Homo sapiens: one gene and its partners. The protein of the gene in region 3 interacts with the protein of the main gene of each other region in a pairwise test. Each region holds a gene or a part of one and is shown on either strand. Other genes may lie near its edges. The genes, in order: KIFAP3, RBM24, RBFOX1, ALG13, GCA, SIRPB1 and CELF3.

The links.
Region 1: the proteins of RBFOX1 (region 3) and KIFAP3 interact in a two-hybrid assay, tested with the Homo sapiens proteins (one large-scale study listed by BioGRID and IntAct).
Region 2: the proteins of RBFOX1 (region 3) and RBM24 interact in a two-hybrid assay, tested with the Homo sapiens proteins (one large-scale study listed by BioGRID and IntAct).
Region 4: the proteins of RBFOX1 (region 3) and ALG13 interact in a two-hybrid assay, tested with the Homo sapiens proteins (one large-scale study listed by BioGRID).
Region 5: the proteins of RBFOX1 (region 3) and GCA interact in a two-hybrid assay, tested with the Homo sapiens proteins (one large-scale study listed by BioGRID and IntAct).
Region 6: the proteins of RBFOX1 (region 3) and SIRPB1 interact in a two-hybrid assay, tested with the Homo sapiens proteins (one large-scale study listed by BioGRID).
Region 7: the proteins of RBFOX1 (region 3) and CELF3 interact in a two-hybrid assay, tested with the Homo sapiens proteins (one large-scale study listed by BioGRID).

Annotation. Positions count from the first base shown.
Region 1 is NC_000001.11:170,068,196-170,071,695, forward strand, and holds part of KIFAP3 (kinesin-associated protein 3), read right to left. Parts: intron 723-3,500; exon of another isoform or gene 1-722. UniProt on the Homo sapiens protein: Involved in tethering the chromosomes to the spindle pole and in chromosome movement. Binds to the tail domain of the KIF3A/KIF3B heterodimer to form a heterotrimeric KIF3 complex and may regulate the membrane binding of this complex.
Region 2 is NC_000006.12:17,287,861-17,291,360, reverse strand, and holds part of RBM24 (RNA-binding protein 24), read right to left. Parts: intron 1,790-3,500; exon of another isoform or gene 1,336-1,789; coding exon of another isoform or gene 1,293-1,335; intron 513-1,292; coding exon of another isoform or gene 468-512; intron 1-467. UniProt on the Homo sapiens protein: Multifunctional RNA-binding protein involved in the regulation of pre-mRNA splicing, mRNA stability and mRNA translation important for cell fate decision and differentiation. Plays a major role in pre-mRNA alternative splicing regulation.
Region 3 is NC_000016.10:7,579,524-7,583,023, forward strand, and holds part of RBFOX1 (RNA binding protein fox-1 homolog 1), read left to right. Parts: intron 1-253; coding exon 254-397; intron 398-3,500. UniProt on the Homo sapiens protein: RNA-binding protein that regulates alternative splicing events by binding to 5'-UGCAUGU-3' elements. Regulates alternative splicing of tissue-specific exons and of differentially spliced exons during erythropoiesis.
Region 4 is NC_000023.11:111,757,660-111,761,149, reverse strand, and holds the end of ALG13 (UDP-N-acetylglucosamine transferase subunit ALG13), read right to left. Parts: coding exon 3,388-3,490; intron 1,417-3,387; coding exon 1,151-1,416; 3' UTR 501-1,150; downstream 1-500. UniProt on the Homo sapiens protein: Catalytic subunit of the UDP-N-acetylglucosamine transferase complex that operates in the biosynthetic pathway of dolichol-linked oligosaccharides, the glycan precursors employed in protein asparagine (N)-glycosylation.
Region 5 is NC_000002.12:162,350,632-162,354,131, reverse strand, and holds part of GCA (grancalcin), read right to left. Parts: intron 1,795-3,500; coding exon 1,725-1,794; intron 721-1,724; exon of another isoform or gene 399-720; intron 1-398. UniProt on the Homo sapiens protein: Calcium-binding protein that may play a role in the adhesion of neutrophils to fibronectin. May play a role in the formation of focal adhesions.
Region 6 is NC_000020.11:1,617,210-1,621,387, forward strand, and holds the start of SIRPB1 (signal-regulatory protein beta-1 isoform 1 precursor), read right to left. Parts: upstream 2,801-4,178; 5' UTR 2,736-2,800; coding exon 2,660-2,735; intron 1-2,659. UniProt on the Homo sapiens protein: Immunoglobulin-like cell surface receptor involved in the negative regulation of receptor tyrosine kinase-coupled signaling processes.
Region 7 is NC_000001.11:151,706,804-151,710,303, forward strand, and holds part of CELF3 (CUGBP Elav-like family member 3), read right to left. Parts: intron 2,989-3,500; coding exon 2,940-2,988; intron 2,546-2,939; coding exon 2,417-2,545; intron 2,275-2,416; coding exon 2,195-2,274; intron 1,133-2,194; coding exon 989-1,132; intron 846-988; coding exon 704-845; intron 492-703; coding exon 342-491; intron 1-341. UniProt on the Homo sapiens protein: RNA-binding protein involved in the regulation of pre-mRNA alternative splicing. Mediates exon inclusion and/or exclusion in pre-mRNA that are subject to tissue-specific and developmentally regulated alternative splicing.

The DNA of each region.
Region 1 (3,500 bases), on a different chromosome or scaffold from region 3:
TTCTCACAATAAAAAAAATTAACAGAAACTGTCCATGCTACAGCACAAACACTGGACTTATCAAAGACTTTAAATCAACTGTCTTAAATATGTCCAAAGAGCAAAAAGAAACCAGTGCAAATAACTAAGAAAAAGGAGAAACACAATGTCTCAACACATAAATAGTTTAAAAATATATTATCATAAGGATCCAAACAAAAACACTAGATCTGAAAAGTACAATAACTGAAATAAAAAAATCACTACAGGGTTTTTAACAGCAGATCTGAGCAGAGAGAGAAAAGAATCAGCAAACTTGAAGATATGTCAAATGAAACTGTCCATTTTGAGGCACAGAAAGAAAACAGAATGAAGAAAAATAAACAGAACCTAAGAGACTTATGGAACACCATCTAGTATACCAACATATGCATAATGAGGGTATGAAAGGAGAGGAAGAAAGAAACATAGAGAATACTGGGAGAAAAAACAGTCAAAAACTTCCCAAATTAGACCAAAGACAAACTTACACATCCAAGAAGCTCAATGAAATTCAAAGATAAACTCAAACAGATCCACAATAAGACACTCTATACTGACGCTCTATTTAAAAAAATAAATAAAAGATTTTGAATTAATAACCTAATTTTACACCTTAAGGGGCTAGAAAAAGAAGAGCAAACAAAACCCCAAGCTAGCAGAAGGAAATAATAAAAAGCAGCAACAGAGACTAGAAAAAGAATAGAGAAAATGAAACCAAAGGTTAGTTCTTTGAAAAGATCAACAAACATTTTTGGAAAACTTTTAGTTAGACTGACTAAAAAAGAAAAGAAGAGACTCAAATTACTAAAATCAGAAATGAAAGTGGGACATTACTGCTGCTCTTTTGATGATTAAAAAATTACAAGAGAATAATATGAACACCAACAAATTGGATAACCTACATGAAAAAGAATAATTCCTAGAAACACACAAACTACCAAAACTGACTCAAAAGACACAGAAAATCTGAACAGAATTAGAAGTAAGGTGATTGAATCAGTAATCATAAACCTTTCAACAAGTCCAGTACCAGATGGCTTCACTGGTGAATTCTACCAAGCATTTAAAGACAAATTAACATAAATACCCCTCAAACTCTTCCAAAAGATATAACAGTAGAGGAAACACTTCCTAATTCATTCCATGAGGCCACCATTACCCTGATACCAAAGCAAGACAAAGACACTACAGGAAAACCTTTAGACCAATACCCTTTATGAATGTCGATGTGAAAATCCTCAAAATACTAGCAAACAGAATACAGGAGTATATTAAAAGGACCACGCAACATGGCCACATGGGCATTTCAATACAATACACCACATTAATGGAATGAAGAAAAAAAGTACATGATTATCTCAATCGATGCAGAAAAAAGCATCTGACAAAACCCAACATCTTTTCATGATAAAAGTACTTGATAAATTAGGAATAGAAGAAAAGTCCCTTAACATAATAAAGGGCATATATGAAAAATCTACAGCCAATATCATACTCAATGGTGAAAGAATGAAAGCTTTCCCCCTAAGATCAGGAACAAGACAAGAATGTTTATCCACTTTCCTGACTTCTATTCAACATAGTACTGGAAATTCTAGCCAGAGCAATGAGGCATGGGAAAAAAAAATAAAAAGGCATCCAGATTGAAAAAGAAGAAGTAAAATTATTTCTATCTGCAGAAGACATAATCTTATATATAGAAAATTCTAAAAATGGCACAAAAAACTGGCTAGAGCTAATAAATTCAGCAAAGTTGGAGAATAGATCAGAACACACCAAAAAAATCCACTGTTTTTCTACATATTGGAGCTGAAAAATATGAAAAGGAAATTTAGAAAACTTCATTTCCAATAGCATCAAAAAGAATAAAATACTCAGGAGTAAACGTAACCAAGGAACAACTGTATACTGAAAACAAAAAGTTGCTGAAAGAAATTAATATGAACTAAATGAAAAGAAATCACATGTTCATGGACTGAAGGACTTAATATTGTTAAGATGGCAATATTCCCCAAAGTGATCTATAGATTCATTATATTCCCAAAGTTTCAATAGCTTTTTTTGCAGAAATGAAAAAGCCAACCCTAAAATTCAAATGGAAATATAAGGAACCCTAAATAGCTGAAACAACCTTGAAAAAGAACAACAAAGTTGGAGGACTCACACTTCTGGATTTCAAAACTCACTACAAAGCTTCAGTAATCAAAACAGTGAGGTACTAGCACACGGACAGATAGATCAATGAAATATAATTGAGAGTGCAGGAATAAACCCCAACATTTTTGGTCATTTAATTTTCAAAAAAATTGCCCAAACCATTCATGGAGGAAAAGAACAGTCAATTGTTCTTTTCTGACATTTGTTCTGACAAATGATGTCAGAACAACTAGATAGTCACATATAAAAGAATGAAGATGGACCCTTGCCATATACCATAGACAATAACTAACTCGAGATGGATCAAGGATATTAAATGTAAAAGCTAAAACTGTAAAACTCTTAGAAGAAAACAGAGGGACAAACCTTCATGACCTTGGATTTAGCAGTGGTTTCTTAAATAACGATGCCAAAAGCATGAGCAACAAAAGAATAAATTAGACTTCACCAAAATTAAAAATGTTTGCATATGAAAGTTTTACATACCAAGATAGTGCAAAGAAAACCCACAGAATGGGACAAAGTATCTGTAAATCATGTATCTGACAAGGTTCTATTACAAAGAACTCCTTTTCCCAAAGAATAAAGACAAATGGCCAAGAAGCACATGAAAAGCTCAATGTCATTAGTAATTAGGGAAAGGCAAATCAATACCAAAATAAGATACCATTTGATATCCACTAGTATAGTAATAATTACAGAACAGAAAATAACAGGTGTTAGTGAGGATACGGAAAACTGAATTCTTATACATTGCTGGTGGGAATGTAAAATGGTGCAGTCACTAGGGAAAACACTTTAGTGGTTCCTCAATGAATTAAACATAGAATTACCATATGGTCTGGCAATTCCAGGCCTAGGTATACACCAAAAGATACAAAACAAGTGTTCAAACAAAAACTTGTACAGTAATGTTCACAGCAGCTTTATTCCCAATAGCCAATAGGTAGAAACAACCCAAATGTCCACCACCAGATGAGCAATAAACAAACAAAATGTGGTATATCCATAAAATGGAATACTGAATTAGTCAATTTTATGTTGCTATAACACAATACCTGAGACTAGGTAATTTATAAGGAAAAGGGGTTTATTTAGCTTACAGTTCCGCAGGCTGGGAAGTTCAAGGGCATGACTCTGGCTTCCAGTGAGGGCTTTTGTGCTTCATTATAACACAGTGGACAAGATCAAAGGGGAAGTGAGAAAAGAGAATACCCAAGGGTCTTCCTGGCTTTATAACAACCAACTCTAGAGGGAACTAATCCATTCCCAAGAGAGCTAATCCAGTCTCACTAGAGCAAGAATTCACTCACTCCAGCAAG
Region 2 (3,500 bases), on a different chromosome or scaffold from region 3:
AATAGAAAAATTCTTAGCCAAGAATATAGGACTCAAAAGGTAGTCCATAATTATTCACTTCTGTGGGGTGATCACCAGTTTGTCGAAATTAACATAAACGTTAACAAAATCCGTATGTTTATTATCATGGCAACCCTACTTGAAATTGCTATGCAGACTCAGCACACATTAATCTCTCTGCAACCTCAGTCACCCTTATTAAAAATAATAATTAAAAAAGGAAGCAGGCGACAAAATAAGAAAAAGGAGTTTAAAAGTTCACAAGTGTGGTAAACACAGCAGAATCACACTTCTCAAACGAACTGTAGTGCAGCTCACTCTGTCACAAGAGGCTGTCGTGGGAAGCTACAAAAATGCTATTAACATTCATGGCAGTGATTCCCAAAGAGATGTGCAGCACACTTATTTTCTTTCTTTCTCTTTTTTTTCCCCCATAAAATTCATAAGGACACAACGGTCAACCAAACCTGTTTGACTATCAGGCACCTGAGGGTCAGCCAGCTTGTTTATCTCTATGCAAGACAGACAGAAGGGGTTTTGGGGAAATGATGAGGTTGAGGGAAAAGGCAGGACAGGGAAGTACAACTAAATATTTCTAAAATTAATAGAAATTTAAAAGGTTTACATAACAAGGAAACTTTTTTTGCACATCTACTAACTCTTGTTTCATCCTCCAAATTAGCAGAAATACGTTAGTGTTATGTTCGAAATCTGCCCTATTCGTTGATATTTTGTACAAATCATATCAATTGTATAATCATGTGTTATCCTGCAAAAGTTCAAGAAAGTCAAACAAAACCAAGTATCTTTTAAAATTATACATTCACAGATAATACAAGACAGACTCCAATGACGTTACTTAAAAGTTAATGTGGTTAAAAAAATAAATCACAAGAGGTATTTAAACAAAAATTCCATGCATCTCCATTCTCACTCTTGCAATTTATTACTGCCCATCTGAAACACTACCATAAATATCTGATTTATCTTCTTCTTTAAAATAATCTCCATTAAAGCCCCCTATATTTATATCTAAAAACATGACACTATAATACTACGTGGTTGCTGGCAAAGCCAACTTGTAAGAAGTACAAGGACAAGTAACAACCTTTCAATTTCAAAGAACTCAAAACAGAAAACAGCACTTGTAGATTTTTCAGAAACATAGATTTTGCTTTGCCTTTTCAGAGTTTTACTGAAAGCACTCATTAACGAACATCCATGGAAAAGATGAATTTATCTCAGAGGGTAGTGGACTTTGGCCCCAATGATAAAAATACACTCAATTTTACCAGACTTGTAGATGTTTCCCAGTGCCAGGAGAAACGACGTCATCAAGTGTTTCTGAGGACACTCAGAGATGTTCTTAACTGCTTGTCAGAAACCAGGCGCGTGGTCATGCACACACTCAGAACTTTGCTGCAGGTCAGGTGACTGGCTCACTCGCAACAACAGGTGTGGCTTTATGAAACACTGTCCCTGGAGGCTGCCGTGTCTACAACGTGTAGACACGGCTAAGAGAGCCTACTCTTATGCCAGTTTACATGTGGTGATGGACAGCAGGGGCTGCAGCCGGGCTATTTTTGATCCTGTCATGCGACAAGGGTTTCCAGCGGGTAAAATGTCTTTATAAGGCCAAAGTAAAACATCTATCAGCTGCAAAGGCCAGCCAGTGCGGATCTCACTGACACCGAAACCTTAACCCCTTGTACTCTCAAAGTTCCAAGAACAACACTGTGGGTGCTAGGTTGGTATCTCTGAATTAAGGTGTTAAGTGAAAATGTTTATCCTACAAAAAGGAGAAAGTGTTGTGAAGAATGCATTAAAAGACAGGCAAGGTTGCTTAGGGGGCTTTAGCTCTGCATTTACTTTGCATTAGGAAATAGTTTTGATTTCACAATGTCAAACAATGAGAATATAAAGAAAGTTCACTGGATTATCAGACTCCTACATGAAGTTTGGCAAAGGTTAAAGAGACGTCTGGAAGGCAAATGAAAACCTAGAACATTTTAAGGCTTAGAGGGAAAAGGAGAACCCGAAAGACCTTGGAGAGCCTAAAATATCCTGGGTCAGGAAGGAAGGCAGAATTGGACTGAAGGTTCAAGTGGCACTTTGGAATGAAATCCTGAATTAGGAGTTCTTTTTAATAGTCTGAGACCCATTAAGGTGATCTGGGAATCTCCCTCCTATTAGACATTTACCAATGTCGTTTCCTTAACCATAAAACGTGCATGCCTAGCAGTTACAAAAAGCACAAGTGCAAAGAAGACACTTTTGGTAATTTTCAAAGAAAATTTACTACATTTTCCTTTTCTTCCCATCTCTTCAGGTTCCACTGACATCTCTATGTGACTTTTAAAGCAACATCCTAACTGGTTTTGAAGCAATATCCTAATCGGTTTCTTTTTCCAATCTATCTCACAGCAACTGATGACAAATACTCCATCTCATTCATTTGCTCAAAGTAATCCTTGGCCCCTAAAAAACCAAACTCAGTGCAAATTTCTTAAGCCTTGGCATTCTAGGCCAAAACATCCAGACTGCCCCTGGCTCCAAAACACCTTTCTAGTATTTCCTTCCACCTTTCCTCAAACCCAGGTCAACTGGGCTCCTTTATGTTTCCTGGACAAGCTTCACATTCCCAGATTCTTGCCCTTTATTCATGTCATTCATCCCTCACCCAGATGCTAATCCTCACACTGTCTCTACCTGCTGAAATCCAAATCCCACTCACCCTAGCTCTAGCACTCACTACGTGTAGAGGTTTCAGAAATTTGCTTTATCGTTTAGTCTCATATGTTTCTTTTTTTATGCTTTGTTGTCTTAACATAGCCTCCTATTTTGCATATGTGAAATGGACTAATAATCTCACAACCCTGGATTGCTGTGCATTAAATAAAATTATCTGTGGAGAGAGTCTACAATGCCAAATATAGTAGGCACTCAATAAAAGAGTTCCCTACCCTCCACCATTCTTTAAAACCTAGGTCAACTTCTACTTCCTTCACGAAGACTTCTGAATCCCACTCATTGTCCTGATGTTCGTCTCTCTTATCTGAAGCCACATGGACAGCCCTTCTTGGTGCTTATCGGCTTTCTTACTGGATTATGAGAGAATAGAGTTTTGTCTTTTGGGGCTACAGCTTGACAAAGAGGAAAGACTGCAGCTTCTGAGGTCAGGCAGACCATGATTCTGAATCTAGACTCAGCCTCTAACACTTAGCAGTCCTGTGATCAGGGGGAAGTTAATTAACCTCTCTGTGTCTTAGTTTTGGAAAAGATATTAACAATGCCTTCAACAAACACTTACTGTGAGAATTAAATTATGTAATTTATGTAAATCCCTTATCATTACAATCCATATGGCAGATGTTTGGTTAGTGTTAGTTACAGTCCCTCCTGCCCTCCTTAGTGGACACTATAAAAACTAAGCACAGTGTTACCACACCCAGCATAAAACTGAGCACTTAAAGGGGTACTGAGTCAATGTTTAAGTGTAT
Region 3 (3,500 bases):
GAATGATGCTCCCTGAGGGCAGGGATTTTTGTCTGCTTTTCCCACTGCCTAATCCCAGATTCATAATGAGCACCCAGTGGACGCTCAGAAAACACTTGCTGAATGAATGCATGCATGCATGCGTCAGCATTTTCTTCCCTTCTCAGATTGCTTAGTTCTGATCTTTTCCTGCCACTCATGGCAAGCAAAAGAGCATCGGAAGAGAGCACTGTGGTCCACTGAGAACCTCTTCGGTTTCTTCTTGTTCTTTTAGCAGACAGATGACGCAGCACCGACGGATGGCCAGCCCCAGACACAACCTTCTGAAAACACGGAAAACAAGTCTCAGCCCAAGCGGCTGCATGTCTCCAATATCCCCTTCAGGTTCCGGGATCCGGACCTCAGACAAATGTTTGGTGTAAGTATCACCTTTCTTCCCAGCAGTGCCCGCTCTGGGGGTTCCAGAGACCTCCCTGTCTCATGTAAGTTTGGGGTATTTACAATACTAAGGTTAGATGTTTGTATGGGGAGAAACAATTTAGAGCCTAGTCTGCAGGTATATTGTGGCTAGAATCTCTTTATGGTTTTAGCATGTATTTCTGTACATATGCTCACCATGTATCTACTTTACCAAGTGGCTTTCTTCTAAGAAGTAACTTGTAGGCCAAATGGAACACAAATTCCTAGATGACCCACTGTTGAAGGAAGCCTATTGATGGTCCTAAATCCAATGGCCCAGGACATCATACTGCAGCAAAAATACACATCGAGTCCTCTTGGTTTTGCTTTCTTTTACAGTTGTCAAATGATCCAGAGGGTGACTCTTAGTGTATCCCTGCATTGCCTAGTCTTTCCCAGGCACTGTGCATTTAGATTTCAGATGCATCAGCAGAGAACAACTACTTCTGCATAAAGCTGATTTTAGCAAACAAAACAAAACCACCACCACCGACACCAAATGAGCTACCAGTTTCTAAGTCCATGTTGATTCCTGAAGTCTACGTTCTTCTGAAATCAGTGAAAAGGATTCAGAGGTACTTACTGTGGTGCTATATGCCATGAAGTGTAGCCTTGCCCAGGCACCATGGTGAAACACAGAGCAGGCCACAAGTCACCACTGACCCAGGAGAAAATAATAGCATTGCTTTTTTTATAGGTCATCTTGCCCCTGATTATTTTTTTCTCGAAGATATCTTCACTATCCACTTTGGGAAGACATGAGTTTGCCATTTCTTTGACCAGTGTTCCACCAAAGGACAAAGCTGTGACAGGGCTTGGATATCATTCATGTTTGCAGATGTAGCCAATTTGCCCATGACATCCCAGCAATGATAGCAGGTGCCTCTGGATTCAATGAAAAGAACTACATCCTTAACATTTGACTTAGAGCAATGGTGGGCTTCTCAGAGACTCTTCCTCTAAGAGTTAATAAATGGATGCAAATATCACAAAAGGAACAAGAAGATGCCCAACTTGAATGCCTCATTCCTAGCCAAGTTGGTGGTGTCTCCATATAAAATGGGAGGCTCTTGTTCACTACTCAAAGGCACTGTGTGTTGGGGATTAGCTTGCACCTTTTACTTCTTATACACACGTGATGCTTATCAAGTATGCATCTGACACAAAAGCAGAGCGAGCATCCTAATATTGAAGATACCCAGCTTTGAATGCTGACATTTCAGAGGAAAAGGTCAGCTCTTGCACTTTTATCTCTCTCATTTGGTAATAACCTTGAGTTGAGCCTTCCAACTCCTGCAGAACAGAGATACCCTCGGGCACTTTCAGGTCAAAGATGACTTTGAAAAGTGCAGAGCATTCAAAGTGAGAGTCGAGGTTAAGTGTGTGTGAGGCAGTAAGACCAGGTGTGAATGATGGGCGGTAAGAGGAGTTATATTCTCTTTGCCGTGTCAGGTTAGGAAGACATCTTGCTATGCAGTCTATTTTTTTCTCATCAAGTGTCACTGTGATGTTGGCTTTCAATGTGATCCCCTTAATGACCGTCCTGACACTCTTTCATGGTGTCACTCAGTTATCGTGAAAGTTACTGCAGGCTACAATGCTAAGTCATAGAGGTATTCAAAATATTCACAGGAATCAGAGAAGGGATCCTGAGTCTCTCTAGTCTTACAGAGGTAGGGTAGACGGCAAGGAGCAAGATCTTGCCAAAAAATTGTACTACCGGTCATCAGACCTTGATCCAAATCTACTAGTTTCAGGGCTCTTGTTTTTAAAAAGACAAGTTCTCACTCTGCTACCCAGGCTAGAGTGCAGTGGTGTGATCACGGCTCACTGCAAATTCTTGGGCTCAAGGGATCCTCCCACCTCAGCCTCCCAAGTAGCTGGGACTACAGGCACAAGCCACCATGCTTGGCTAATTTTTAAGTATTTTTTTTTAATAGAGATGGGGTCTCAATTTGTTGTCCAGGCTGCTCACAAATTCCTGGCCTCAAGCAACCCTCCCGCCTTGGCCTCCCAATGTGCTGGGATTACAGCATAAGATGTGAGCTATTGCACCCATCCAGCACCCCCCCCCCCCCTTTTTTTTGTGACAAAGTCTTAGTCTGTCACCCAGACTGCAGTGAAGTGGCATGATCTCGGCTCATTGCAACCTTTCTCCTGGGTTCAAGCGATTCTTGTGCCTCAGCTTCCTGACTAGCTGGGACTACATGCATTCACCACTTCACTTTAAAGTCAAGATTTTCAAGCAACTGACAAGATGTCAATTTGGCAAGATGATAGATACACTTAATACCTGTCAATTAAGAGAACACACCATGCATTTAGTGCACAAACTCAACCTTGTTCATCACAAATAGCATCTGTGTCCCTTTTTTTAAAAGTATGCAAGATTTATTTGTTTCTGTAAATTTTGTCTATAAAAGTGCCAGGAACATACAGATTCATAGACCCCCTTGCAATGACTTTCAAGCCTCCTTAGTTTACAACCACTATTCTAAAGAAATGCAGTTTTATGCACTAAAAATCTGTTCTTTCCTGCCAAACACCGGTGGTCATGGAGCCGTTCTTGTTATAGGATACATTTAGTGGCAGGAATCACATTGTGAAGCATCTGTAAACATTCTCATTGGCTCCCTGCACTGGAGCTTAGGGAATTTAGGAGGGTTTCCTCTTTTGGGTCATAGTTACTGCAAGAAACTACAGTTTAACTCCAATTCGGTACTTCTCACGTTATTTGGACATGAGACATCTTCTTTCCTTTTGGTGCTCTATCCTGTCTTTGTCTTCCCACTTTGACAGGGGTTTACAGTGAGGACAATTACAGAGAAAAACAGTCACAAAGATCTTTGTGCTTTTCCCCCCCTTTGTCTCTTGTTAAATATAGGCATGGGATTTCAAAGTCAAAAGCAAAACAAGACAAAAAAGCAACCTCCTTCTTCAAACTGCCTAAAACTTGGCAGTGATCATTACAACGTCTGTAACCACTAATAATTCGACCATACCATCTGCAACCGTTACATGCCTAATGGTTACTGCAGATGACTCATTTTATTTCTAATTTG
Region 4 (3,490 bases), on a different chromosome or scaffold from region 3:
CTGTCCATACTTCATTGAAGCTAAGCATAAAAAATGGACAATTTCCCCTGTATTTTTGGGTCTCCATTCTGAAGGTTCCCATGTACACATTAATAAAATTTGTACGCCCTTTCTCTTTATCTGCCTTTTGTGAGCTGAGTTTTTGGTGAACCTTTAGAGGGTGAAGGAGTTTTCCCTTGGCTCCTACAACTATTGAAAGTATAGGATAATGAGAAGTCTGAAGTTCTATAAGAGGGTTATAAATGCTTTAAAAAAACACACACACACATACAACATAAAAGGAACATTTTCTGGAGAAAAGGCGTAGATATGGTAGTATGTGCTGCAATGACTCTAGATTAAATAACATCTCAAGTGGCCCTGCAACTACTCCCCACCAGTTCATGCTAAAAATTCACATTCTTTTGCAACCAAAATGCCAGAGAAAAAACATGTTGAAACAATCAAATGTCCGGTACTCTTTGCTGACATGAAAATGCAAAAAGAAAAAATCCCACTCGTTTTGGCAATTTTAAATGCTAATTTTTATTTACTGCTAACTGTGCAAAAGACACCAATTCAATACAGTGCAGTAAAACACTTACATACATCCAGTATTAAACAATAGCATATGGGATAAATCTAAAGCAGAGAACCATGTGCCTTCAAAACTGATATCACAGAATGCAACTGGCTTCAGATAATTCTCAAGAAACGTGAAGAGCTCTTTAATTTAATATTAAGTGAGTTATCCAGAAGCAAAGGCTCTTGGTTTTACTTTCTAGAAAAAAGTGGAAGTTACTCCAATTCTGCATGGTTTAATATGATGTGTGATTTTTGAACCAATGAAATACTTTATATTCATTTTATCAATTGGTACCATCAGCTAATATAAAGCTGACAAATGGCTGACAGGAAAACAGCTGAATACAATGAAGTATGCTCAATATGGGGCTAGTTGTACATCCATCTCAATTTCCTTAGTCACAGCCCAAAATAATACCCCTTAATTTTAAAGTACTATTTTAAATCAAAAGATAAAATAATTTTAAAGACAAATACAATAGTAAACACTAATCACCTAAATCATTTAACCACTAACATAAAATACTTTTTAAAAACAAAAACAGCAAGAAAATGGCAGTGCAAGAATACTTCATACTGCTGGATCTTACATACCCTGAGGTACATAATGAGAAGCTGGGGGAGATGGAGCAATACAGCCAATTGGCCCAGGATTTATAGCACCATGAATTTGAGAAGAACCACCATATGCTGTACCAACTGGATGCCAGGGGGGAACACAGGAATAATCTGGCACAACCGGAAGGCAGGAGTCAAAACCTGGCAAAGGTGGCTGCCCATAGGGATCTGACATTACTGGATAATAGACTGCTCCATGAGGGACAGATGAAGAATCAGCATTCGGAAAAGTATCTGAAAGAAAGGATGTATACAGTCTACTTTATATACAAAAATTCACCAAAACAGAACCCCATGCAACATAAATGGATGTTCTTATGTGTGAAAATAAAACTAACTATAAGAAAGATCACAGCAATTGCAGCAGGAGCACTTTAAATACAAATAATGAGTAAAGATAATATGAAAATTTCCAAATTAAAAAACTGTGAAATATATGTGTCAAATCTATTCAATGTACAGACAGCTATCTTTCTGGGATGATTTAGGTATCAGCAAGCTAAATACATAAATATTCTTTAGAGTCCTTCTAGTTAATTAAATTCTTGTAAGAGGTGGTCACAATTGAGTTATCCAATAGTTTTACAGTATACATCATCCGAATAACCATTTAGCAATGAAAAACTCAGGTGTCTAGACATTCTGGTCTATACCTGAAAGTATAGCTCTGAAGAACACCCTAAAAGTGTCATCTCCTGAATGTCATTAAGATCACATTTTAATTTCATAGCACTTTTGCCATGAGTCAGTTCCAGTAGAAATAAATGCTGTTTTAACCTTGCTATAATGAGTATACACATTAGACAAAAAAAAAAAAAAAAAATTCATTACTTGGGCTTAGATTAACTCTGTGAAATTAAGACTGCCACTGCCTCATAGTTAACTACAATTAAAAATAGCTCTATAAAAGGTATACTGCACAAAATTCAAAAAAAAAAGATTGACACTGTAATATGCTTTAAAAATGGAAAGGAAGAGAGAAATTAGTATTCCTAATATGCACCAGGTAATAGTATACTTATACATAAGGTCCCAATTAGTTCTTATAACAACCCTGGCAAGTCAGGTACGAACTCCTGACCTCAGGTGATCCACCTGCCACAGCCTCCCAAAGTGCTGGGATTATAGGCGTGAACCACCGCACCTGGCTCAGTGAAGTATTTTAATACCTAGCCTTTCAGATAATTGTAGATATTCTTTGATGCTACACCCAAACTACATAAGTGGTAGTTCCTCAAAGGTCACTAGCAATGTGGATTTTTCATGCTCTGTTACATTAAAATCCACTGTTTTATCTTGCACTTGGAAAGATCTGTTACAAAAATCACACCTTGGTCATATCATGCATTGGTAATTGGGAAACTCTTCCTTCACTGAGTTATGCAGATCTTCCAAATGTTGACACATTTCCTCATACAATTTAAGAAACTACATTCAGCTCTACTTATCTTATTACAGGAGTTTTAATTGGTGGGAAGGTGTCAAGCTCATGGTGGAAGATACATGTTTTCCAAAATTCTAATTTTTATTTGAAAGCTAAAATTGTATCTTTGGCAACAAATATTACTAGTTATTTATCCTAAAGTGACAGGCTCACTTTGTTCATTTAAGAAAATGCCGGCCAGATCAACTAAGTGTGAATAATGATAGCTTATCCCTCTTTCAAGTCAGCAAGTACAACTCATAACTTAATAGCACAAGTCTTTTTCCTTAAGTTAATCATTATACTTCATTTAGTATGCAGAAGTGTTTTATAAGTAGTTCCATTTTTGTCACAAAGAAAAATACAACTATTCAAGGATAAAAATTTAGTAAAAATGTCTTTGATTAAACAAAAAAACATAAGATTGGCATTTTTGTACCATGGGTGTGTGGCAGTGAGAAAAACACTGATTACTAGCAGAGTCTGGGGTCAGTACCAACTAGTGCTTAGGTGTCAGCAGTTTTACCCACCACTGGTTTCTATGTCCTCAATGAAAATGCAAGCCAGTGAAAGGGGCAAATAAACTCTTAGTATTATTGTGAACACTTCTGACCTCATGAATCCCTTGAAAGAGTCTTAGGGACCACAAGAGGTCCACATATCATGCTTTGAGAATCACTGGTGTAGTACATGGACCTGATGAAATATATGAAAGCTATTATTGAATTACACACAATAAAATCCAACTGTCTTTCTTGCTGGCAATCTCATTACACACTCACCATTTGCTGATGCTTCCGCCTGTATGCCATCTTCTCTCCTCACCTCACTGTAGCATTGAGGAACGGTTTGATCTACCAGAGGTGGCTCAGTATAGACTGGATA
Region 5 (3,500 bases), on a different chromosome or scaffold from region 3:
AACCAAAACAAGCAAAATGAGGAGAAAAAACAATCTGGAAAAAACAAAGGTTATATAGGAAGAAAAAACTTTAAAAATATATTAATAGTCTCAGAGAGATAAGGGACAATATCACATTCATGAAAATAGAACAGAAGCTCTTGGATATTAATGAAAAGCAGAAATGAAAGACTCAATAGAAGGTTTAGGAAATAAAGTTGAGGAAAATTCCCAAAAAGTTCAGCAAAAAAAAATGATAGGAGGAAAAAGATGATAAAAGTAGAAAACCCAGTGAAAACAAAAAGCATTCCAAGAAACAGAAAATATCATTGAAGAAAACGTCCTACATCTAAAGCAAAGGAGTTTCCAGGCTGAGAATACCATCTGAGTTCCCCACACAACACAACTAGGTACTTTACCATCAAATCGCAGAATACTAAAGACAAAGATCTCACAAGTTTCCAGAGAGGAATAACAAATCACATCACATCCAGGCAGGAAAGAGAAAGATAATGCAACAAGGGACGCTAGAAACAATGGAGCAATACCTTTAAAATTCTACTTGAGAATCATTTGTAACCTAGAATTCTATACCTGGCCAATCAATTCTGAAGGTAGAATGAAAGCATTTTTAGATACATAAGCTCTCAAAAATTTATCTCCCATATATTCTTTTGTTTGTTTTTGAGATGATGTCTCACTCTGTCACCAGGCTGGAGTGCAGTGGCCCAATCTCAGCTCACTGGAACCTCTGCCTCCTGGGTTCAAGTAATTCTCCTGCCTCAGTCTCCCGAGTAGCTGGGACTACAGGTGCGTGCCACCACGCCCAGTTAATTTTTGTATTTTTAGTAGAGACGGGGTTTCACCATGGTGGCCAGGGTGCTCTCGATCTCTTAACCTCATGATTCGCCCACCTCAGCCTCCCAAAGTGCTGGGATTGCAGGCATGAGCCACGGCGCCTGGCCGTATTTTTTTTTTATATTAAGAAGCTGCTTAACTATACATTTCACTAAAATAAGATAATGAATTTTTTAAAAGAGGACAACAAGAGATGGAGTAAAAAGGAGATCTAACTCAAGAGAAACGGGGAAACCAGCTTCAGAATGATGGTGAAAGAATCCCAGTATGACAGCTACACATAAAAAACTGCATATCCCAGAGTTCTAGGATAATACCTGACAACTAGTGATTTCAAGAAAAGCAAAACATTATATAAAAAGGAAAAGTAATCATACATTATCATAAGATACAGCTATAAGCAGCATTCAGATAGTAAAAATAAGGTAAAGACTAACATACCTAACAAAAGTTACTATATATTATAACTACATTGGAAGGACAGGAGGATGGGAAATGTTCCTCTGTGGAGTGCAGAGACAGGGGAGAGTTTAAGGTTAAAATAAAGTGAAATCCTCATCTTTCATAGCAGGATATCAATAGATAATCATAAAATCCAAAAATCAATCGTGAAAAAAATATTCTATCTTGAAATCTGGAAGCAAATTTCAAAAGAATCAGATTTTTAAAAGTCAAAAGAAGTGTCCTCTATGAGCAGTTAATGTTAAGGAGACAGGAATACACAATGAACAGTTATTTTCATAACGAGTTTTACAGTTATTTGACTCCTTAAACTATGTGCATGTATAACTGTGATAATTTTTTAAACATTTTAATTACAGGGACAAAAAAAGTAAGAAAATAAACTTCCTATTATAATTTCAACAAAAGGGGAAAAAAGATCTCACGAGAGTAAGTTCCATTAATTCCAGACTGTGTCAAACATCTCTGAAGTTCTTCAGCATCCACTTCACCATCCTGTTTAAAAATAATTATGACCTAATTTAATGTGCAGTTGTATAAAAGCATATTAAAATGTCAATTGACTGTTCTAGGCCAATCAAGACATATGCATTCTTTGAAACATTACTCTATAATTAACTACAAAATTCTAGAGATAATTACTGACAACAAAGGCATATTACAAAATATCATACCACAGAAATAATTTCTTCCACTTCTGAAGAATAGCACAATTACCCTGTTCTATAATGGTTCAAGACAATCTCATAAGAGTCATTGTACTTCTATTTTAAACAGTTAGAAAAACAGTTAAACAGTTAGAAAAATGCCTAAAATGTGTTCAGAAAAGTCTCGAAAACATCCCCACTCATGCTGTTTTGGGAGGAGATTATTTATAAATAATACTGAAGCTTTAACTGGAAGGGGAAAATATATTTTCCCCCACCATTACCCCTAGCAAAATTCTAGAGTCCCCCTGTATCTTGCTGCTATTCTTCTGATTACTGCCCAAACAAGTCTTGCCTGAACTTACTACAGAAAATAAAGTTTTAAAATGCAAACAAGAAATCACAATGGAAATGAAATAGGTTGAGTATTCTCATTATGATTTAGTACCTCATCCTGTTTTTGACAAAAATAAGTAATTCCTTTGGAACCATCACAAACATTGGCACAAATGCAAAATGTAGCTATGATGAAGGATCAAGGAGGCAAATTTAAAACCTACTCTTCATAAGAGATCCAAGAAACAACAAAACAAAAAACTTTTCTAAACTACTTCTAAGAAATATTATTAACACTCACATTCTAATGGATTTTTGGCAAAAGAACCCCTTACAAAACTGCAGCTGTTCTAATAGAAATTACAAAATACTAAGCAGCATTCTTCCCTTAACTGAATTAGGTAGCATTAGCGGTAGAAAGCTGAATGTCCTAATTAAATTACAAGAGCATCAGGTAGAGAATTAACAAAAATCAATTGCCCTTCGTTAGGCAGCAAGATTTTAAAATGATATCCAACTTCAAGTCCTATTTGTTCAGTTACTCAATTTGAGTCTCCACTTACTTATCTATAATACAAAGGTAGCTGTGTCATGCCCACATCACAGTTGCTGTGTGGAAAAGTAGAAGCAGTGTGCATACAAAAGTTAAAGTTGTTGGTATTACTGTGATGCATGTGTCTGTATGTATGAAGACAGAAACCAGAATTTCCCCAAATTAATTGATGATTTAATCCTTACTGTTTAGAATACTTCATCCTATAAATAAGAACACTGCAGAAACCTTTAATCAGGTGTTTTTCATAGAGCATTATTAATTATGAGGCCCATCAAAAAAGGATATGGCTGTAGATGTAAGTTCAGTAGTTGGGTTCCAGGAGCAGTATACCTAAGTCAGATGTTGCACCTGATCCCTCAAAGCTAGGTAGAACTCAATATATGAAAAAATACAGTCTAAATATTTAGACTAAAAATTGAAAATGGGATAGTTAATTCATCCATACGAAACATTTATCAAATGTTTATATATTCCTAATATCTACCTGTCAAGTAGGGAAAATATGACCAGAACCCTGTCTTTATGGAGTTTATTTATTCAAAAGCACAAGACTGGGAAATTTAAGGAAAGTATCAAATAGTTCAAACATAGCGAATTTATTGCTGACAATTAAAATGCTGAAATAGTTCAGCAGTCAAAAAGAGTTTCCAAATATATGTCCA
Region 6 (4,178 bases), on a different chromosome or scaffold from region 3:
CATAAGCATGTCACAGAGATATCTGTGCTCCCATGTCCATTGCAGCATTATTTACAATAGCCAGGATATTAAATTAACCTAGATGTCCATCAGCAGATAAATGGAGAAAGGAAATTGGTATACACAATGGAATTCTAATCAGCCTGACCAAAGAAGGAAATCCTATCATTTCCAACAATATAAATGATCCTGGAAGATATTATGCTAAGTAAAATAAGCCAGGCACAGAAAGACAATACTGCATAATGTCTCTCATATGTGGAATTTTAAAAAGTTGAACTCATAGAAGTAGATAGTAGAATATTGGTTACCAGGCACTAGGCAGGGGGTGCATTTGGAGAGATATTGGTCAAAGGATACAAAATTTCAGTTTAGTTAGGAGAAATTAGTTCCACAAATCTATTGTACAATATGGGGTCTAGAGTTCATAACACAATTCGTAACCTCAAAAATTGTTGAAAGCAGATTTTGAGAGATCTCACCACAGAAATGATACATATACAAGGTAGGTCATATGTTAATTAGCTCAAATTAGGCATTCTGCAATGTACACATATTTCATTAATATGGTATACATGATAAGTATATACAGTTCTGTCAAATAAAAATAAAATATTTTGTTAAAAGTTTCATTGAAATTAGAAACTTGGAGAAACAATGATAAAAAATGAAATCTCCTGTGTGTGCATGTACACTTACTTATATGCATACATGCATATACATATGTATACACACATATGTATACACACATTTGCAAATATATATACACACACATATATGTATATATACACACACACACATATATATGTATATATAGACACACACATATACATTCACAAATATATATCAAAGTGTGACCTATTGTGATAGTATATAAGTTTGTTTTGTGTATTAAATAAAATTACAACACACGTTAAAATCTCATTAAAATATCTGGCCCATAGAAAGTAAAATATGTGGCCCATAGAAAGCATCCAACACATTAATAACAAATTTAGAAGTACATACATCACAGTTGTAACTCTGGTTGTTGCTAACAAGTGTGGTAGGCAATAATTAATTCTATGTTTACTTCCCTGCATTTTCTAATATTTCTGCTAGTAGCATAACACGACTAAAAGAATGAACTTTGGAGCCGGTCGACCTGGACTTGAATCTCAGCTGCTCCACTGACTGAGGTAGGGGACAATGAATGGACAAGTTCCTCCCTCTGCCTGAGTCTTTGTTTGGAAATAGGGGATAATAGTTGCAGCTTTCACACAGGGATGTTGTGAGGATTAGTGGAGCTAAAACAGGCAAAATGCTAATAACTGTGTCTACATGGTAGGAAGAGCTCAATTGTTAAACTCTTACTGCTGTCATTTGGGTACAGTGTATGTGTGAGAAAAATAATTTGAAAAGTGAGACCCCTGCCCTCTAGGGCCTGTGAGGTGACATCACAGCAGGGCCCAGTGGGGAATTGAGAGGCTGCTGTGCCCAGCCCTGTGGTTCTGGGGTCAGCTCCATGGCCTGAGAAGGGATCAGGACAGGTAACTTGTCTGGGAGCTGTGAGCAGGGTTCTCCCAGGCTGCACCAGGAAAGGCCCTCCAATCCTGCCTGTCTTGGGAAGGGGAAAGAAATTATCCATGGGAAATTTAAGAGAACCAAAGGAGGTTGTAGTACCTGTTATGGGCTGAATGTGTCCCACAAAATGCATGTGTTGAAGCTCTAATCCCCAGCACCTCTGAACGTTACAGTTTGGGAGACAGGGTCTTTAAGAAGTAATTTAGTTAAATGAGGTCATTGGGGTGGGCCTTAATACAACAAGACTGATATTCTCATAAGAAGAGGAGATGAGGACACAGACACACACAGAGGAAGATCATGTGTTTAAGACACAGAGAGAAAATGGCCCTGTATAAGCCAAGGAGAGAGACTTCAGTAGAAACTAACCCTGCTGACACCTTGATCTTGGACTTCAGCCTCCTTAACTGCAAGGAAGTAAATATCTGTAGTTTCAGCCACCCAGCCTGCAGTTCTTTGTTATGGAAGCCCTAGGAAAGGAATATAGGACCCAGTAAGCAGCAAATGTGGAACTTCTTAAAGAGGAAGAGGCCACAGAGAAATGGGTGGTAAGAATCAGGTCACAGGGGAGGGAGGAGCATGGGGGAACAGAGGACAAAGTGAGGAGCACCCTTAGGGAGGATGGTGGCTGAACACTCCCAGGATACACCACACCACTGCCCTACTCAAGTGAGCACTATTACAGACTTCACATCCTCAGTTTGGTGAAGAGAGAGGGCTGGGCCTAGAGCCACATAACCCTGTTAGGGTGTCTCTGAGCTTACTCTGTGGACTTGGGCATGTCACTTGGCCCTAGGGCCTCAGGACTGGTGAGGATTTAGATAATGATTCTTCTCTGCTTTTTCAATTGAAATATTATCAAAATGTAAGTAATTGTTGTTGTGGTGGTTGAATCGTCCTGTGGTTCAATGCCTCTGGTAGCCAGCTGCAGATCCACAGAGAAAGTGCTCAGCTCCCTGATTTTCTGCTCTCAGTCAAAGCCTAATCCTTGGCCTTTCTTGGCAGCACTTGTCATTGTCCGGAATCCCTGAAAGTCCAGGGACAGGCCATGGCTCAGTGGGCAGGAAAAAAGATTTTAACCGAAGGCAGTGCTCACCTGTGAGTCTCCCCAGCAGTAGCGTCATCAGCAGGAAAGGACTAGGAAGGTGGGGCCAGGAGGCTGGCACGGGCATTCTGGAGACCTTAGGAGCCTGCTCTGTCCAAACGTCTGTGCTGGGAAGATCGCAGACTCTGCTCTGAGGAGAGAAGACAAGCCCTGCCTCCCTTAGTTCAAGAGGAAGTGGCTGCGATGGAGTGAAGCAGTAACCTGCTTCTGGATTGTGAAACAGAAATCAGGAACAGCAAGCAGCTACAATGCAAGCAGTTATGCATGCCCCATTTCAGGAGAATCAGACAGGCTTAGCAGAAATAATGCTTCCTTCCCACCTGAGGTCTTAACTCCTTCCATGACTCCTAACCCCATCTTTATGTCTTCTTGGTGATTTGCCATTTGGTGCTCTTAAGCCAGGAAGGACCTGTGGTTATGAAATGTTTCCTAAACTTTCCATCTCAAGACCTCAGGATGTGGTTGGCTTGTGGTCTCATTCTACAACAGCCTCAACCAAGTGCTACTCAGTTGGGGCAGGATGAGGGATCACTGGACCTGCTCAGTGTTGGAGAGGAACAGGTCTGCTCTTGAAATGGTTCCCTATTCCGAACTTTTATAAATATAAATGGCAAAACTTAGCCCAAATTCAGTCTCATGTGGCCGTTAGCACTTTCATATGCCTGCACCCAGCAGAAGGAATTATTTCCTGACTTCTTCCAGGAGAGGAAGTGGGCTTAGGGTAATAAGGATCTGCTTTGTGAGGTGAGGTGGGGATTATGGGTTATGGAAAGGGGATATGTTTATTATGGGGGAGAATATGGAGGGCAGATTCCTGGAGCAGTCACATCGATTTCAATACTCTTTGCTCTGCACATAGAACACCTATTCCATTCATCACTGTCTTCAGATGGGAACTGAGGAGGGAGGGAGAATAAATACCCTAAGAAGATGTGCTAAGGAGTTGGGGAAGTTACTGGGCCTGCCTAGGTTCAGTTTTGCCTTCTAACCTTGGGATAATAAGTCTCACTGCCATGTTTTAGTGAACATCAAAAGAGATAATGACTATACATCCCTGAGATTCAGTAGGTTATTATTGATACTCATGGTGCCAGGTGAAGAGAGGGAACTCAAATATTGCTTTTAAATGGATTTCTACTGCATGCTGAGTTTCCCACCAGTGGCCTTCTCCCATGTTCCCCGGACTTCTGGAACCCAGCTTTTATGGTGTACTTGGTCTACCTCTGACACTCTGAGATCAATTTCTCCCTCTGGATCCTCTTCACCCTGCTTTTTGTCAATCTGTAGATGAATTCCTTTTCTTACAATCTCCAGCTGTGTGACTTTCAACAAGACACTTGACTTCTCTAAGCCTTAACTTAATTACATGTAAATGGAAGTTATAACATGCACCTTGTAGTGATATGGTAAGAGTAATATAAGCCATACAGAAGGTTTGATTCATATTTAATTATAACCAAAAAATTGTGGCTATAATTACATTTGTGTACAGGGTGAGTTCACTGCTTCC
Region 7 (3,500 bases), on a different chromosome or scaffold from region 3:
CCTCTGGGCCGAGGCCAGGCAGGTGGGGAGCAGAGCTTCTCTGGGCATGGGGTGTGAAGTGAGAAGGCAGAAATGCACAAAGCAGTGGGAAGAGGGGAAAGAGCCCAGCGTTAGGAAGACTTGGGTCTGACTGTCTTGCAACCCTGGACAGGTCGCTTCACTGCTCTACACCTCAGCTTCCTGGCCGAGCCCAACAGGAAGGATCATCCCCGCCCAGGATGGCAGGGCAGGAGGAAGCACCTGTACCCCCAAAGCTGGGAGGGAAGGTGTGTCCTGCCTCCCTAATGGGAGTGGTGGTTTAGATGGTTGCTGGGACGGAGTGGGCAGGCAGAGAGTCCCACCTGGGTAGGGGTGAACCCCGTTGGGATACAGAGCATCAGGGGCAGGCTGCCCAGTGGGCTGGGTGGGCACCGGGCTGTAGCCGTTGACGCCCAGGGCAGCCGGAATGGCAGAGACAGGCGTGGCAGCGATGGCAGGAGGGGTGCTGGTTCCTGGGGAGGAGAAAGCGACAGGGAGAGAGCAGAGGAGCAGACACACACACAGGCAGAGAACCAGTCAGCAAGTCTGTGGGCAGAGGGGAGGAAGCAGGCCTCTCTGACCCCTGAGTCCCTCCCAGACCCCGAGGCTTCCCTGAGCAATGCCCTGTGCCCCTCCCTACCCCTACCATGCTTAGCTCCCTTGCCCGGCCTTGCCCAGGCCATACCTGAGGATGGGGTGATGGGGGTGGCGATGAGGCCATTGGCATTGATGGCAGCCATGTGCTGCATCTGCACGGCAGCCATGGTGGCCATGGGGCTGAGGTAGGCACTGTGAGCCGCTACCAGGGCCGCCTGCTGCTGCATCAGCTGGGGGGAGGGGAGAGGAGAGTGGGGCAGGCCCCCTGTGCCCAAGCCTGGCTCCCTCCCAGCCCGGGGCCTTGGCATCGGGAGGGTGGGGGCAAGATACAGGGGGTCAGGAGGGCTGGCCCGGCATCAGGGGCAGTGCTCACGGCCTGGGTGTAGGCGCTGTAGGCTCCAAACTGGAGGGCGATGGGGCTGAACATGCCCAACTGGGTGGCCACCTGCTGCATGCGGCGGAGACCTCGCTCCTTCTCAGTGTCAGCAAACTTCACCACCAGGCTGGACGAGGCACCCTGGGCACGGGCCCACACACAGGTCAGAGGTGCAGGGTCAGGGTCTCTCCTCCCCAAAGCCCTCAGGACCTGGTCTCCATTCCACCCCCATGGCATGGCTTGGCCTCTCTGAGAGGGCGGCCACCATTTTGCGTATGAAAGATGGGGAGATATTAATCCCACTCTCTCCCTATGCTAGGATGTGCAAGAGGCTAGAAGAAAAAATGAGGAATGTGAAGGCACATGCTTGGAAAGTGAAAAGCCTACTGGAATGAAAAGGGCATCATTGGCTACTCTGTGAGGACTCTGAACTGGAAATCATCCCCACCCTGGGTTGCCACAGCAAATGTTTAATCTCAGGCTAGTCTTCCCTTGTAGCTGCCCTGCGTGCCTTACCACGACTCCTGCCCCCACACCCCAGTCCTCATGGTGTGCCTCAAATCTTAATACTAGTCTGAGCTGAATAAAAACCAAATTGGAGCATTTGCAAGGATGATGGTAGAATCCTAGAATCTCAAAGCTGGAAGGGGCATAGGGTCATTGGACACAGTTCTCTACCCAATGCTGTGTCCCCTCCACCAAGGCCCCGTGAAATGTCTGCCCAGCCTTTGCTGGAGAGCTGTGAGTTATGGGAAGTGCACAGCCTTCTGAGTCAGCCAGTTCCAATTTAGAGGTGGGCTCTAGACTGGTCACTGACCTAACGCTGCTGTGCAGGGGCAGGGAAGAGGGGTGCACGTGGGGCCTCTAAGCAAGTGTCCTGGCGCCCCAGCAAATGAGGGTAGGGGGATATGGGAAGGCTGGAGAAGAGACGGGGGTGAAGGGAGGGCTGGGGAATGGAGGGAGAAGGAGAGGGATGTGAGGGAATTTGGCTGAAGGTGGATGGGGAATAGGGGAGGAGTGGGGAGGTGGGGAAGTGCCATTTGAAATGTGAGGGTGTCCCTAAGCAGTTTGGTTCTTCTGCCAGGACATTCCTTTCCAATAAATTCAAATAGCCCATCCTGAGTGGACTGCTTCTCTGGGCCAGGGCCTGGCAGGTGGGCAGGGTGGGAAGGAGAGGCCCGGGGGCAGGGGAGTGGGGCTCACTGGCAGGGTCCGGCTGCTGTGAAGGGTGTTGATGGCCGCCTGGGCCTCAGCGTGGGTCTGGAACTTCACGAAGGCGCAGCCTGGAGAGGTTGAGATGGAGGAGGAGAGGGGTAAGCACCCATCCCTGCGGGACCCCGCGGTGGAACCCGATGCCTAGGGAGTCTTGGGGGTGGAACAGGAAGGGGAAGGGCCCGGTGGGGAAGGGGGAAGTGGGTGGACTACCTTTGCTGGTGCCATCTGGCCCCCGGAGCACAGTGCACTCGTCGATGGTCCCGAAGGGCTCAAACATCTTCCGGACGTCCTCATCTGTCTGCTGCTTCCCTAGCATCCCCACAAAGAGCTTCCGGTCTTCTGGGTGGTAGGGCACAGGAGGAGGGCATGTTCAGGGCCTCCTGGCTGCCTTCCCAGCCCTTCTTCCGCCCTTCCCTGGAGCTCCTAACACTACTTCTGCTACCCTTAGGGTCCAATGGCTGTAGGGGCTGATGGTTGGGGAATGGGGTATAGTTGCAGAGGGTGCTCATCCCAGCTCTGAGGGACTCGCACTCCACCCTGGGCCTCAGTTTTGCCATCTGTACCCGCCCCAGATCTCACCCGCTCTGGCCACACTGACTCCTATCTCACCGCAGCTGGGAACTCTTCAGAATCATCAGGCTTTCTCCCTCAAGAAAGGCTACCCCTCGACAACTCCAGGCCCTGGGCCTGGGGGTGGGAGGAGAGGGACAGAGTCCAAAGGCACAGAACCTACCTCCTCGGCTCTCGCTGTCGGCTGGCTTGACCTGGATCGGCCTGTTCATCTGAAGGAGAGAAGAGAAGGCAGCTGCTGGGGACCTCCTCTGAACACCCAAGAGCCCTCCCAGGCCAGGCCCTGCAGAGAGACTAGAGGGGCAAGCCCCAGGCCCTCTAAGTTTCTGATGGGAAGGAAGGGACAGGGCCTAATACTGTTCAGGATGAAGGCCTGAGGGGATCAGAGGCACAGAGAGAGAGGATGTAGAGGGAGAGGCTCATGGGCACAGCTCCAGGCTCAGGTTGGGCTCCTGATGACTTGGCCAGGGATGGGTGCTGCTGTCCTGAGTGGGAGAAGGGGGCCTGCACATAGGACCCGGGGCCTGAGAGAGAGCCCGACCAAGGAGTTATTTAATAAGAATTGCCTCAATTCTACAAAGTGGGCGCAACAGAGGCCACTCTGAAGAAGCCCCAAGGAGGACTCTAGACTGAGGGAGACCCCACAAAGGCCCAGACTTCCTTCTGACCTCTAGAGGTGTGTCTGCCTCTCTTTCTGCCCCCCTATACCCCTTGACCCCAGGGG